Regions from separate parts of the Homo sapiens genome. Here region 2 is linked to region 1. The links come from fine-mapping of genetic effects on gene expression. A gene starts in region 1. The other region holds a variant in brackets. All regions are shown on one strand. Distances are from middle to middle.

Evidence for each region.
Region 2: its variant is fine-mapped to the expression of RGS20 in subcutaneous fat (GTEx, PIP 0.98).

Annotation. Positions count from the first base shown.
Region 1 is chr8:53,876,301-53,884,644 of GRCh38, forward strand. RGS20 (regulator of G protein signaling 20) reads left to right here and starts at 4,572. Exons shown (of 5, transcript NM_003702.5): 1 at 4,572-4,784. The coding sequence starts at 4,716. RefSeq lists enhancers at 427-927, 3,529-3,823, 4,471-5,102, 5,103-5,734, 6,012-6,081 and 1 more and silencers at 4,012-4,151, 4,232-4,281, 4,412-4,521.
Region 2 is chr8:53,942,165-53,950,508 of GRCh38, forward strand. It overlaps RGS20 (regulator of G protein signaling 20), which reads left to right. Exons shown (of 5, transcript NM_003702.5): 3 at 4,501-4,584. Among named protein-coding and RNA genes, the nearest start is that of RGS20, 65 kb to the left of the region's middle. RefSeq lists enhancers at 2,245-3,444, 2,905-3,199, 3,030-3,079, 3,090-3,229 and a silencer at 2,905-3,199. The variant T/A (reference allele first, on the strand shown) is at 4,257.

The sequences.
Region 1 (8,344 bases):
CGGATTTAGGCTGTGGCGATTTTCGTCTGCATAAAGGCACTCTGGTTGCTGTTCAGTAGCCAACATGATTGATTAGGGAAGTGGTGGTTCAATCAGAATAAAGTATTCCCCAAGTATTCTGGATCCCTAAGGACCAGTGCTTCCAGGAATACGGTACTGATGATTCCATTTTGTGGCTATTTTTTGACAGTCCTCAGACTGTCAAATAGAATCTGGCCTAAAAGGAGGACAAGGCTCTCTGAAGTGCAGCCCTTCGGGCAGCTGAAGGTCTTTCTGCAGATAACTTTTCTCAGATCGAATTTTTTGGCTACATTGATACTCTTCGGCTCTGTCCTTGCCAGAAGTTCGGAAGGATTCCAGCGCCCCACACCTTGCTTGATTCACCCTCATCCCCTCCCCTAACTGGAGAAGCCGCTGGGTCCCGCGCCAGGCTCGCGGTGGCTTCAGAGTAGCAGGGGAGCAGGCGGCTGATCCGGAGGCCAGTGTGGGGCCGGCAAGCGGTGACTGTCTCCAGAGGAGCAAAGGAGCCGAGTCTTGTTTTTCTTGGATCAGGTTTGGGACTTTTATTCTGTCTGACCATTTCCACCACTTGCCTCACAAGAGTCTCTGTCTCGAAGCACAGGACCGAAGCAAAATGCCTAATGAAGCGTGCCTGAGGAAGGGGCAGGGGCTTGCAAGTGACTTGGGAAGAAGGACTGGGGCGAAGGGAGAAAGGAGGTTACGAGTTCGCACGTTCTCACAAAACCATTTGAAAACATGAGCTGGAGACGCCAAATTCTGGGACCCACGAAAGGCTTTGGAGCTCGCTCGGGCTCCTCGAAGTTGGGCGTGCGTCGCAGAACAGTGCTGGGCGCTCTCTTTCAGCATTTTCGGCTTTTTTCAAGCCCTTGCGTAGGGTCGGGAAGGCCGTGGGTGGGCTCAGTCAGGCTTTAGGTCGCCAGGAACCCGGCTGGTCCTCTCTCGACTTCTTAGCGTGGGGTCCCGCCGGCCCTGCCGCCCGTGGCCGCCGAAGTTCCCGCCCTCGCCGAGGGCCCTCGCTCCGGAGTGGGGCGCAGACGCGGCCGCCGGCCCGCAGTCCCCCGCAGGTGCCGCCCAGGACTAGCTGCCCGGCGGAGGCCGAGCACGCTTGGCGGCAGCTGAGCCTCCACCCCAAGCCCCAGCCGGAGGGGCGCGTCCCCTGTCCTCCTCCCGAGCGAGACGAACGCTCAGCAGCTCGTTCCCTGGGCGCCAAGACCGATTTCCAAGTCGCCCACTTTCCCCCTCGAGGGAGCTGTTGGCGCTTCTCCAGAAGCCTCCTCGGCTCCCAGCTCCAGCCCCTAAAATAAAAGCACCTTGCCAGAGAGCGGGGGAGGGGAGCAGCTGAACGAGGAGAATGAAAATACTGGGAGAACGACCCCATTCTCCAGGAAAAGGTAATGAGGGGAAGTGAAACAGTGTGAACTTACTCGGAAATGCAAACCGAGTTCAACTCACCCAGGAGCAAACAAACGACAGCAAGACAAATCAGCCACCGCACTCGCGGCTTCCCAGAAAGGGCCTCATGAATGAGAATGGGTTGCTAGGTTTCCTTCCCTCTCTCCTGACAATCGCTTCCCACAAGACTTCCACCGCCGAAAGAATACAGGCCGGGCCTGGTGACTGCGGAGTGAGGGAACCGCGCCAGGCCCACGAGGCCGCTCGCGACCGCTCCCGCCTTCAGGACCCTGGAGAGCGGCCGCCGCGCCCCTGGGACCCACGCCCAACCCAGAACACCCGCGCTCGCCTCCCGCGCCTCACCACCCCAGCACTTTATTCGCTGCTTCCCGCCTCCACCTTCATTTTTTTTGGCAACCACCGCTCTTGTTTTTCACAGACAGATTAAATTGTTTTTTGTTTGGCATGAGGGGGTGTTTGGATTGGCCGAGCTACATTCCGGTTTGTAACTACACTAAACGTTAGTGTACCAAGAAACTAAGAGCGTCTCAAAGATGACAGTCTGAACGTGGCAGGTGACCTTAAAAAGCCACTGAGTTCAACCCCTTTATAAATGAACTCAAAAAATAAAGAGACATTCCCAAGGTTAGCCATTAAGTTAGTGGCAAGGTTGAGTGTAGAACCGTGGGTTTCTGACTTCTAAACTAGTGCTTCCCTCCACTTTCCAAAAGAAAAAAAATATCTCATTGCTTAGGTCTCCTAAGCAACAAGTGGAAGGTGGAAAGGCCGGTGTTCCCGGGAATAAGAAGGACACATGGAGTTTGGAAAGGAGGTCTGCAGAGGGTTCACTTGTAGTAGCAGCCCTAACATGGAATCCCGGTGTCCCCAGCTCCACGCAACATACCTACAGCCGCACTGGCCAGTCCCTTTTTCCAACCAGCCTGTGGAGGGTCTGAGGCCCTTCAGCCACCTTCAGCCACTATCTGGACCTTCCATAGACAACAATCCCAATAGAATCTAGTAGCCAAGGCCAACTCTGTGCCTCTGGCAGGCAGAGCCCTGGGCACTTAGGGAGATGGGAAAGGGCAGGGGGAACAAGGGAAGACCAGAGAAGGGAGGGGAAGAGCAACAGTTACAAAAGTGAACTAAGATTTTCATCCAAATTCTGAAGAACCAGGCGATGTGAACACAGACCCTTCTGCATACCGCATGTCACATTCAGCGCGCATGGTAGTCCCCTGGGAATGTTACCATGCAGATTCCGATGCATTGGCTGGGTGGGGCTCAAGAGTCTTTATTTCTAACAAGCTCCTAGGTGTTGGCGAAGCTGCTGGCCTACGGACCACACTTCAAGTAGCACGGAGTTAGGAAATACAGGAGTGGGAGGGGAAAGAATCTAACTATAGGCCTTTCCTTCTGCTTTCACCGACCTTCTCTTGCACCCCCAAAGTAACGCTTCAAAATTCTGTAGTAAAGAGCCCCATCTAAGCGGCCGGACACCACAGTAACCGTATGCTGGTTTTGTTTCTCTCTCCCCACCCCAGTCCTTCCCGCCTGCACAGCTCCCAGACTCGCCCGCCGCCCCGAAGCTGTTCGGCCTCCTTTCTAGCCCGCTTTCCAGCCTCGCAAGGTTCTTCTCTCACCTTCTCCGGCGACCCCCTCCCGAGGCTCCCCGGAGGCGCCTGGACTTCTCCCCCCTGCTTCCCGCCCTGCCGGCCGCCCGGCTCTCGAGGGGGCACGAGGAGCTGCCGGGCCGCCTCTCGCTCCTGCTCGGGGCGGCGCTGGCACTGCCCGGCCGACCCTCGGGGGGTCGTCCGCTGAGGCCCCCCCATCCGGTAGCCAAGCCCAGGGAAGAAGACGCCACCGCTGGGCAGAGCTCGCCTATGCCGGTGAGTACCGTGGTCTCCACTACGCCCCACACCCAGCCTCCCCAGGACACCAGCCTCTCCCGATTCTTCCTAACCCCAACTGACCCGCTCCGCTGGGGCTAGCAGTAGGGAGGGTGGCAAGGTCGGGAAGGCCGGGACGTGGCTGGGCAAGTCCTAGGACGGGACATTGGCGGCTCCCGGGACACCGCCCCTCCCCGCGGGAAGACACTCCAAGCTACTTTTTCCTGGGCCATTTCCTTTCCATGGTCCAAGAAAACGGGAGGGAGCCCTCGCTCTTCCCCGAGGCTGCCTTTCAAACTCTCAGCGTGTCGCTCTCCTCCGCCTACTCCGAGCCTCCCCCAAACGCGCCTCCGCCTGCTCCCAGCGCTCGCTCTCCCACTCCCCTGCCCTCTCGGCAGGCAAGGGAGGAAATGACGTGATGTTATTTTTGTGTCAGGTCAGTTTCCAGCTTCAGCTTAGCCCTCCGGGCTCCAGGGAACTAACCCCGCGGCCCCACCGGGTCCCACTCCCGAAGGGACGCTGCGGGCTACGGGGACACGCGGTGCTGCGAGTCCGGAGAGCTGGGCGGCTGGGTTCCCCCTCCCGCTGCCCCCTGGTCTACTCCTTTCCCCGGACTCCGGAGTCCCTGGAGAAGGGGACGCGGAGGGCGACTGCCGAGGGTCTCAGCGGGATCTGGAGTCAGGGGTTAGTTCCCCCCCTTATCCCCCGCTCGGTTGCTGGGTGGGGCCTCCGCGCTCTGGCTAGCTGGGAGGGGGCGAGGGCCGCTTTCCAGGGCGGGAAGACCGGAGGCCTAGGCTGCGCCGGGGTGGGGCGGGGACAGAGCTCAGAGAGGCGCCCCGGGCCGGGGAGAAGGTAGGGGGCTGCCCTCCAGAGACGCGCAGTCCACAGACGCGAAGCTCTGGGGACCAAGCGCCCCCTCCATGCCTGCCGCCCACCCCCGCTCCTTCCTCCCGCTCCCTTCATTCACGAGGTCCGAGCACGCAGTCCAGCACACTCTAGTCTCGCTCGGCCCCGCGCGCCGAGGGGAGGCGATGACACAGAGGGCTTCGCGGACGCCCTCTACGCGCGCCTGGCTTCGCATCCACACTCTTGGGACTTGCTAATGCGGGGCTGGAGCAGTGGGGCTGCGGCCGGGGTGGAGGTCGCGCCCCGCGTGGGGCCTCGGGGGTACCCCTAGCACCCGCGGCGGTGGAGTGCGCCGCCGCTGGAGGGAGGCGAGACGTGGGATTGCCCGGCCGGGTAAAAGGAGTGAGGGGGCGGGGAGGAGGCAGAGCAAGGGGAGGAAGAGGCCGGGAGAAGAGGGCTAGAGCAAAGACCGAGAGCCGGAGAAAGGCGAAAGGCGCGGTGAGCAATCGCCGACGTAGAGAGGGCAGCCCTCCGCGCTGCAATATTGAGAAGGCACCCGCGGGACGCATGCGCACGGCGGACGGAGGCGAGCCGGCCGGGGCTTCCTCCCCGGCCGGCAGGGTGGACGGTGGGCTCGTGAGTATCCCAGTTCCTCGAACTCTCTTTCTTCGTCTCGGGCTCGCCCTGAGGCTTCGTGCTGGAAAGTGGCCGAGGCTGGGAGGGGCGCGCCGCTCGTCCGGACCTCAGGGTGTCGCCGTTGCTGCGGGGCGGGAGCCGGTGCGAGTCGGGGGTTCCTTCCCGCAGTGCGAGTTTGGGGGAGTGGGGCTGCGAGTGCGTCCGCGTGCGAAGAGGGGCATCGCGCCACCAGGATCAATATGTCCCGGGCCTGCCAGGGCGTCCGCGATTCCACCTCTGCGGCTTCGCGTCGGTGTCTTGGTGGGGAACGCGGGAGTCTAGTCTTTAGACCCTAGAAATCGCATTGACCACCCGAAGCGTATTTCGGAAAGACCAGGCGGGTGGAAGCGTCGGCTTTCTCACGGGATAGGGAGAGGACAAGGAAGGGGTTGGGCGCCCGGGGCTGGTGGTTTGAGCGCCGCTGGGAAGGGTAAGGAGACAGAGCCTCCTGGAATCGTAGCGCCTCCTTTTAGGAGAAGTGCAACCAGGGCAGGGGCACCGAGGGGCAGGGTGAGGAAGTGGACGCCCCACGCGTGGACCCTAGAAGACCGACTAGGTATGGGCGTTCACTCGGAGCCTCTGTTCACGCTCTTGAAAACCGAATGAACAGAGAAGTGCCCTCCACCCTTCGCCTGCGCCAGGGCAGTTAACGTGCAGGCGCCGCCGGGATTTTCCTGGAACAAACCCGGGCACTTGATCTTCCGCACCCTCGGAGCTGCCCTGGGAAGTCGAAACAAGTCTGGGCGCCCGGACTGCGGAGACTGGAAAGCAGGGGGCGGAGGGCGGGAGACTGGGGGCGGGAAGTGGAGGTGCAGGCTGCAGCTGGGGACCGCGGTGGGCGTTGGAGGGGAGGGTCTGTGTGCGCGGCTGTCCTCCAGCGCTGGGGGAGCGGACGGGCCAGGGGCCTCTAGGGAAGCGGCGCTCCGGGACCGGGGTGGCTTTCCCGTCTCTGTGTGCGCGGCGATCCCCACACCCAGCTCGGGCGGAGGAGCCCTGAGAGAAGCGGCTAGCTGAGAGTGGGGTGGGCGTTTTGGGGAAAGGTTTGCGTGCGCTGCGGCCCTACCGCTGCTAGAGAAGTGGAAGAGAGAGAGTGGGCGCCGGGAGGGGGTCTATAGGCGCCGCGACCTACCCCATCTCCCTCCACGCTTGTGGGGGAGTGAGTGGGGAAGGGGCTTTGGGAGAGGCGGCGCGCGGGCACTGAGGTGCATCGTGAGCTTCCCGGACTTGACAGCATCAAAGGAAAATCCTGGCGAGCAGCCAGGGCCAGCGAGCGACCCCAGCAGCAGGGACGCGGCCGTGCGAGAGCTCGCGGACAGGCGAGGGGGATCCCAGGGGAGCAGCTGCTGCCCACGGGCCACGGGCGATGCACGGAGTGGAGAAGTGAACGTGGTCTACAGGATTTCTGTCCGGAAGGTGGAGAGCGCTACAGGGGAATCTCCTCGATTCCTGTCCGTCTCGTAACTTGGCAAAAGCTCGCGCCACTGCCCTCCGGCCTGGGCGACAGAGCAAGACTCCGTCTCAAAAAAAAAAAAAAAAAATGGCAAAAGCCTATCGCTCTTTGTCGAACTCCCCACGTTCCCCAGTCACCTGGCTGGGGTTCGTTGGTGTCAAAACCCCAGCCTTGGTGCCCTCGGTGCCAGCAGGACCCTCGCCCACTGGCTAGCGGAATTAGGCACCTGCACGCGGGCTCCTCATTGCCCCGGAGTGTGGGGAGGAAGGGGCTTCTGCATCAGTCTCCAGCCACCCTCCTTGGGACACAAGTGGCAGGGCCCTGGCGTGGCTTGGCTTCATTTCATCCCTAGTGGCTCCAAACCGTGGAATTGACTAAACAAATGTTCAAATTCGCAAAACGGTCTGACTTCCGCCCCAAACTTGACAAGGACATTTCTAGTGAAATTACTCTATCTGTAAGTTTTTTGGCACAACCATAGTTTGCAATTTACTATTTTTGTTAAAATATTTTTTCTCCAAACCTAATTTTTTTGGGGGTCTCATCCTGTTTATCTTCTGTTCGTTAAGTGACATCTTTCTTTCTTTTTTTTTTTTCTTTGAGACTGAGTTTCGCTCTTGTGGCCCAGGCTGGAGTGCAATGGCGCGATCTCGGCTCACTGCAACCTCCGCCTCCTGGGTTCAAGAGATTTTCCTGCCTCAGCCTCCCAAGTAGCTGGGGCTGGGATTACAGGCATGCGCCACCACTCCCGGCTAATTTTTTGTATTTTTAGTGGAGACGGGGTTTCTCCATGTTGGTCAGGCTGGTCTTGAACTCCCGGCCTCAGGTGATCCGCCTGCCTCCGCCTCCCAAAGTTCTGGGATTACAGGAGTGAGCCACTGCGCCTGGCCATAAGTGACATCTTTCTTATCACGTATTAGTAACGCATATGAGAGGCAGTGTTGCCAAACCAGTGGGAGTCTTGAGCTCTGTAACTGGGTTCAGATCCCAACCTAACTGCATAAACTTGGACTAGTTACTTATCCTCTCTGGGCGTTAGTTTCATCATCTGTGAAATGGGGGTAATAAGAGCACCTACCTCGGCAGCTCAGCAGAGCACGGTGGCTCACTCCTGTAATCTCAGCACTTTGGGAGGCCGAGGCAGGTGGATCACGTGAGGTCAGGAGTTCTAGGCCAGCCTGGCCAACATGGTGAAACCCCATCTCTACTAAAAATACAAAAAATTAGCCGGGTGTGGTTGCTGGCGCCTGTAATCCCAGTTACTCTGGGGGCTGAGGCAGGAGAATTGCTTGAACTCAGGAGGCAGAGGTTGCAGTGAGCCGAGATGGAGCCACTGCACTCCAGCCTGGGCAACAAGAGCAAAACTCCGTCTCAAAAAAAAAAAAAGAGTATCTACCTAATGTGCTAGCTGACAGCATTCAGTAAATTAATAACATAGAGCTCTTATAACGGGATGGCACATACCAAGCAAAAGCTGTTATTACTATTATTATATTGATGCTAAATTGGCTAGACTTCAAACTATAAATAAGATCAGTAACAGAATGCATATTTTTGTATACTATAAAGAGTATGCATAATGAAACACATGTCCATCATCCAAATTAGAAAAACAGTCTTTTTTTTTTTTTTTTTTTTTTGATGCTGGGTCTCACTCTCTCACCCAGGCTGGAGTGCAGTGGCACGACTGAGGCCCACTGCACCCTTGAACTCCCAGATTCAAAGGATCCTCCCACCTCAGCCTCAGGAGTAGCTGAGACTTAAGGTGCCTGCCACCGCACCTGGCTAATTTTTTAATTTTTTATAGAGACAGGATCTCGCTGTGTTGCCAGGGCTGATGAACAGCCAGTTTAAGAGAATCTGAAAATGTACCTTAGGAGCTTGAAGTGCTAACTTGTCTGAGATCACTGTAAACGTTTTAGCTGAAACACCCCTTATATCAAAAATACAGAATGATGAAAATCAGGTTACTTATTCTACCTCCTTCGTTTTACAGATGAGGAAACATTCAGAGAGGTTAAGGGTCTGGGCCAGAGATCTCCAGCTAATTAGGGGCCAAAATAGAATGAAG
Region 2 (8,344 bases), 66 kb after region 1:
CAGGAGGCTGAGGCAGGAGAATCGCTTGAACCTGGGAGGCAGAGGTTTCGGTGAGCCGAGATTGCACCATTGCACTTCAGCCTGGGCAACAAGAGCAAAACTCCATCTCAAAAAAATAAATAAATAAAAAATAAAACACAAAAATTAGCCAGGCATGGTGGCGCACACCTGTAGTCCCAGCTACTCAGGAGGCTGAGGTGGGAGGATCGCTTGAGCCCAGGGAGGTTGAGGCTGCAGTGAATGATGATTGTGCCATTGCACTCCAGTGTGTGTAACAGAGTGAGACTCTGTCTGAAAAACAAAAACAAAAAAAAAAGAAAAGAAAAACCTATACCCTGGAAAAACTTCTCACACCCCTGCAAAAAAAGGAGACATGTATGAGAAGATTCACTACAGCATTCATCTGAGTGAGAAAAATTTAAAATGGTTCTAAAGGGTATAGACAGGAGAATGGATGAATATATTGTGGTATAGTTATACAATCCACTACCATACAGCACTTAAATTCATATACTAGAAAAACAAAACTAAACAAATAAATAAGTTAGGCGTGGTGGCTTATGCCTGTAATCCCAGCACTTTGGGAGGCCAAGGCAGAAGGATTGTTTGAGCCCAGGAGTTCGAGACCAGCTGGGGCAACACAGCGAGACCATGTCTCCACTAAAAAAAAAAAAAAAAAAAGTTAGCCCGGCATGGTGGCATGTGCCTGTAGTCCCAGCTACTCTAGAAGCTGAGGTGGAAGGATCACTTGAACCCAGGAGTTCAAGGCTGCAGTGAGCTATGATCATGCTACTGCACTCCAGCCTGGGCAACAGAGTGAGACCTTGTCTCAGAAATAAATAAATTCATATGCTAGAGGGAAAAAAAATTATAAAGCAATACATGTTACATAATTACATTTATACTATGTTTAAAAATATGTTTATGAATATAATATAGTAGCATAATTATGAATTGGAATGGTAAACAGTAAGTTAAAAATGGTGGCTCTCTCTAGGGTAAAGAGAGGAAGAAATGAGATGGGGAAAAGTACACAGCAAACTTCAACTGTTTTAATAGTGAATTTCCTTGTTTTTTTTCACCACACTTTTGAGATTTATCCATATTAATATACATAGTCAAGTCAATTTTCAAGAAAAGTAAATGGCAATTTCTTTTCTAAGTACTTGTGAATCTTTCTCAACATTTTGCTGTAAGGCCTTCTGGTATTTAGTGTTATAAGGGAAGGCATGCTGATTCTTGTTCAGTTGAATATAAAGTTTTTTTCCTTTCTAGTAAGTTTTCTCTTTATCACTCAAAATTTTACCAAAATATATCTGGCCATGGGTCTTCTTTTACTGAAACTTCCTAAAACACAGCGAGCAACTATCTTGGCTACTATAGACATCTTCTAGGTCTGCTGTAACAATAACAGTGGACCGAGGTAAAGAAAACTTCACAAAAAAAAATTCTTCTCTTTTTCAAAACCACATTGTCTCTTTAAAACATTCTTACTTGAAATGAGGGAAAAAGTATATCAAAGCTGAAATAAGTTTGCATTATTTAGTTTGCAGTACAGCTTCTGGTTCTCTGAGGAACTCCTGTCAAATTCATCTCTTTTTTCCTCTGCTTTTTCATACCCACTGAGCAGTAATGTGTTTTGCTTACAAAAGAAGCCTCGGAAGTCATGCAGAGAGCGTACCACTCAGATGCCTCTCAAGTTTTTTTTGGTTGGATTTTTTTTTAAAGAAGCCATTATTTACTGAAACTATTTAGCCCTGACATCATGAAAGAAAGAAGTCAAAAGGGTTCCTGCATTTCTAATGATTTTGCCTTTAAAGAAAAATAGAGCTACACACACACACACACACACACACACACTGAAAATTTATAAAACAGTTGTGCTAAAAACAGGCTGAAAAACTTTTATAAAATAGTGTTAAGAAAAGATATAATAAAGAATATAGAAAATACAGTAGCAACAAGATAAAGAAAACCCAAATTGTCAGTGATAAAATCCATTTTCATGTTGATGGGATGCTGAAAGCATTCCTGCAAAAATCATGAATAAGGCAAAATGTCCACAATCTCTACTACTATTTAACAATGTATTTGGCCAGGCGCGATGGCTCACGCCTGTAATCCCAACACTTTGGGAGGCCGAGGCGGGCAGATCACAAGGTCAGCAATTCAAGACCAGCAGGACCAACATAGTGAAACCCCGTCTCTACTAAAAATACAAAAATTAGCTGGGTGTGGTGGTGCGCGCCTGTAGTCCCAGCTACTCAGGAGGCTGAGGGAGGAGAATCACTTAAACCCGGGAGGCGGAGGTTGTAGGGAGCTGAGATCACGCCATTGCACTCCAGCCTGGGAGACAGAGCAAGACCCCGTCTCAAAAAAAAAAAAAAAGTATTTTAGGTGTTAGCTAATTAGACAAGAAAATTAGAGGCCTGAGAATTGGAAATAGGTAAAATTCTTCCTATTTGCAGATGAAACCCGAAGAGAATTATAGCTATAACTGATACAAATACAGAAGAATTCAGAAATAAGAAGGATATAAAATTATCATTAAAATAATACTCTGTAGGCTTCAGGTCTTAAAATGAAGAACACTTCCATTTCAATAATAAAATGCAAATAAATCAATTTAGAAATGGTCAAAACATCTGAACACACATCTCTCCAAAGATGTACAAATAGCTAGTAAATGCATGAAAAGATGTTCCACATCAGTAGTCATTAGCAAGATGCAAATCAAAACCACAATGAAATACCACTTCTCACCCACTTATGAAGCTAGAATAAAAAAGACAACAGTAACTGTTGGCAAGGACATGGAGAAATTGGATCCCTCAAATATTACCATGTGAAATGGTGCAATTGCCTTGTAAAACAGTTTGGGAGTTCCTCAAAATGTTAAAACTCAAGTTACCATATGACTCAGCAGTTCTACTCCGAGGTTTCTACTTGAGAGAAACACAAATATATGTTCGCACGTACTTGCACAGGAATGTGCATAGCAGCATGATTCATGCAGCCAAAATGTGGAAACAACCCGAATGTCTATCTGCTGATGAATGGACAAACGAAATGTGATGTGTCTATCCAAACAATGAGATATTATTCAACTGGAAAAAGAAATGAAGTGCCGATACATGCTACGGCATGGGCTAAGTGCAAAAACATTACGCCAAGTGAAAGGAGACAGCCAGCAAAGATCACATACGGTATGCTCCACAACAGGCAAATCTATAGAGACAGGAAGCGGATTCGTGCTTGCCTAGGGCCGGTAGAGTGGGGAGATACAGGTGATAAGCAGTGACTGCTTACTGGTGGGGTTTCTTTTGGGGGTGATGACAATGTTCTGGAATTAGATAGTAGGGATGGTTGCACAACTTTGTGAGTATACTAAAAACCACTGAATTGTACACTTTAAACAGATAAACTTGACGGCATATGAATGATAGCTCAATAAAGTGATTAAGAAAGTGGCCGGGCACGGTGGCTCATGCCTGTAATCCCAGCACTTTGGGAGGTCCAGGTGGGTGGATCACTTGAGGTTAGGAGTTTGAAACCAGCCTGGCCAACATGGTGAAACCAAATACAAAAAGTAGCCGGGCGTGTTGGCACATGCCTGTAGTCCCAGCTACTCAGGAGACTGAGGCACAAGAATCGCTTGGTTGCAGTGAGCTGAGATTGCGCCACAGCACTGCAGCCTGGGCAGCAGAGCAAGACTTGGTCTCCAAAAAAAAAAAAATAGCATTCATATTACAACAATAACCAGTTACAAGATGAGATAAAAGTACAAATTCCATTTACGATAACAACAAAAATACTTGGAATAAGTTTACAGACAAATGTACAGAATGTGTATAAGAAAACAAACTCTTTAGAGAAATACAATAGATTTTGATTATGCACTTTATTTTTCTCTACTACTTTTGTATATTTGCCTATAAATATATGAAGCCTCCATTTTGACTGGAAACAAAGCCTAGAGGATGTATACTTTTTAAGATGCAGAAAATGAAATGAAACCCCAATACATTCCTGACAGTCTTACTTTTTTACTATTTTCATTTTTTTAATTTTTGTATTAAATAGAGACAGGGTCTCGCTATGATGCCCAGGCTGGTCTTAAACTCCTGGCCTCAAGTGATCCTCCTGCCTTGGCCTCCCAAAGTGCTGGGGTTACAGGCATGAGCCACCGCGCCGAACCCTTTTTTACTATTTTCTAATGAATGTTTTTATTTAAAAAATCATTATTCTAAGTATAA[T/A]TGAACACAATAATTTCTAACTCTTTCTCAATAGTAGAAACCACAACGTTTATTTATATTTCTAGTACCTTATTGTCACACTTTTGGTTTGCTTGGGAAAACTAACTGGGGTCATTTTTTTTTCCAAGTAGAGGAAGAAATTCTATTAATACTTGGGGATCTGAAGTTCTCTTTAAAGTATTTGTAAAAAATCTTTTCTTGGCAGGGACTGAGCTGTCAACATGTGAATGTCTTTTTTTTGCAGTCTCACTGTTAGAAACCAGGAAGATCAGAGGCCCACAATAGCTTCCCACGAACTCAGAGCAGATCTTCCAACCTGGGAAGAAAGGTGAAATCACACGTTTTTTTTACCTCACTAAACTAACAGAAATACTAACCTCTTTCTTTTCTTTGCCTTGTATGTTTCAACAGAACACATACTTTCTCTAACTGTAATTTAGTAATATCCAATCATTATGTGGCCTCGCATTCCTCCCCTGCAGAATTCCATTTAATTCATCGTGTGACAGGGAGAGAAATCAGTTCCATTATTAGTCTAATCCCTTTGCTAATTGCAAATACAAATAGATTCTTCCTAACAAAACATATTATGTTATTTTATTTTTATATAATATACTTTTAAAAATAAAAGTATATCATATAATTTTATATAAGATATAGCATATATATTTATATATACTATATATAAAATACAGCATATATACTTATATATGCTATATATATGATATAGTATATATATTTATACACTCTATATAAGATATAGCATATTTATACACGCTATATAAGATATAGCATATTTATTTATACATGCTATATAAGATATAGCATATTTATTTATACATGCTATATAAGATATAGCATATATATTTATACATGCTATATAAGATATAGTATATATATTATATATGCTATATATAAGATAGTATATATATTATATATGCTATATATAAGATATAGTATATTTATATATGCTATATATAAGATATAGTACATTTATATATGCTATATATGATATAGTATATACATTTATATATGCTATATATAAGATATAGTATATACATTTATATATGCTATATAGGATATAGTATATACATTTATATATGCTATATAGGATATAGTATATACATTTATATATGCTATATAGGATATAGTATATACATTTATATATGCTATATATAGGATATAGTACATACATTTATATATGCTATATATAGGATATAGTACATACATTTATATATGCTATATATAGGATATAGTACATACATTTATATATGCTATATATAGGATATAGTACATACATTTATATATGCTATATATAGGATATAGTACATACATTTATATATGCTATATATAGGATATAGTATATACATTTATATATGCTATATATAGGATATAGTATATACATTTATATATGCTATATATAGGATATAGTATATACATTTATATATGCTATATATAAGATGTAGTATATATATGCTATATATATGATATAGTATATATATTTACATATGCTATATATATAAGATATAGTATATATATTTACATATGCTATATATAAGATAGTATATATATTTATATATGCTATATATATGATAGTATATATACTATATATAAGTATATATGCTATATGTAGGATATAGTATATATATTTATATATGCTATATATAAGATGTAGTATATATATGCTATATATAAGATGTAGTATATATATGCTATATATATGATATAGTATATATATTTATATATGCTATATATATGATATAGTATATATATTTACATATGCTATATATAAGATAGTATATATATTTATATATGCTATATATATGATAGTATATATACTATATGTAAGTTATAGTATATATATTTATATATACGATATATGATACAGTATATATACATATGCTATATATAAGACAGTATATATTTATATATGCTATATATAAGACACAGTATATATTTATATATGCTATATATAAGATACAGTATATATTTACATATGCTATATATAAGATACAGTATATATTTACATATGCTATATATGATACAGTATATATTTACATATGCTATATATGATACAGTATATATTTACATATGCTATATATGATACAGTATATATTTACATATGCTATATATGATACAGTACATATTTACATATGCTATATATGATACAGTACATATTTACATATGCTATATATGATACAGTACATATTTACATATGCTATATATAAGATACAGTACATATTTACATATGCTATATAAGATACAGTACATATTTACATATGCTATATAAGATACAGTACATATTTACATATGCTATATAAGATACAGTACATATTTACATATGCTATATAAGATACAGTACATATTTACATATGCTATATAAGATACAGTACATATTTACATATGCTATATAAGATACAGTACATATTTACATATGCTATATAAGATACAGTACATATTTACATATGCTATATAAGATACAGTACATATTTACATATGCTATATAAGATACAGTACATATTTACATATGCTATATAAGATACAGTACATATTTACATATGCTATATAAGATACAGTATATATTTATATATGCTATATAAGATACAGTATATATTTATATATGCTATATAAGATACAGTATATATTTATATATGCTATATAAGATACAGTATATATTTATATATGCTATATAAGATACAGTATATATTTATATATGCTATATAAGATACAGTATATATTTATATATGCTATATAAGATACAGTATATATTTATATATGCTATATAAGATACAGTATATATTTATATATACTATATATAAGATACAGTATATATTTATATATACTATATATAAGATACAGTATATATTTATATATACTATATATAAGATACAGTATATATATTTATTGGTCATTTACAAAAACTTGGATTTAAACATTTGAAAATATATATCCTTCTCAAGCAAACATGAAACAGTTATATTTTAAAAATAAAAGTATATTATATAATATACGGTGGGTGGGCACGGTGGCTCACACCTGTAATCCCAGCACTTTGGAAGGTCAAAGCATGCGGATCACCTGAGGTCAGGAGTTTGAGACCAGCCTGGCTGACATGGTGAAACCCCTTTTCTATTAAAATACAAAAATTAGCGGGGCGTGGTGGCAAACGCCTGTAATCCCAGCTGTTTGGAAGGTTGAGGCAGGGAGAATTGCTTGAACACTGGAGGCAGAGGTTGCAGTGAGCCAAGATTGCACCACTGCACCCCAGCCTAGGAGACAGAGCAAGACTCTGCCTCAATCAATCAATCAATCAATAAAGGGAGAGGGAGAAAGAAAAAGCTATAGATGCTTGCCAAAAATTTAATGGTATATAAGTAAAGAAAGTGGTCTAACCTCTAAGAGAGTAAACACTGTTAACACATTTCTTTTTTTTTTTTGAGATGGAGTCTAGCTCTGTCACCCAGGCTGGAGTACAGTGGTGCAATCTTGACTCACTGCAACCTCTGCCTCCTGGGTTCAAGCGATTCTCATGCCTTAGCCTCCCAAGTAACTGGGATTACAGGCGCCCACCACCATGCCCAGCTAATTTTTGTATTTTTAGTAGAGATGGGGTTTCCCCATATTGGCCAGGCTGGTCTCGAACTCCTGACCTCAGGTGATTCGCCCACCTCGTTCTCCCAAAGTGCTAGGATTACAAGCGTGAGCCACTACGCCCAGCGTGTTAACACATTTCTTTAAGAAATGACCTGGAAGATTTGAAAAGAAATAAAATAGAAGTTTTAAAAATCAAATATTATTGTTCAAATTTTAAAAAAATTGATGATTGAAATAGAAGATTAGATACAACTAAATAAATAATTAGTGAACCTGAAGGTATCCAAAAAGACCCACGTAACAAGGAGATTGAAATACAGTTTGAGTTTCCCTTATCCAAAATGCTTGGAACTAGAAATGTCTCAGATTTCAGATTTTTTCAGATTTCGGAATATTTGCATTATACTTACCAGTTGAACATCCCAAGTCCAAAACTTCAAATTATTCCAATGAGCATTTCCTTTGAGTGTCATGTCAATGCTCAAAAAGTTTCA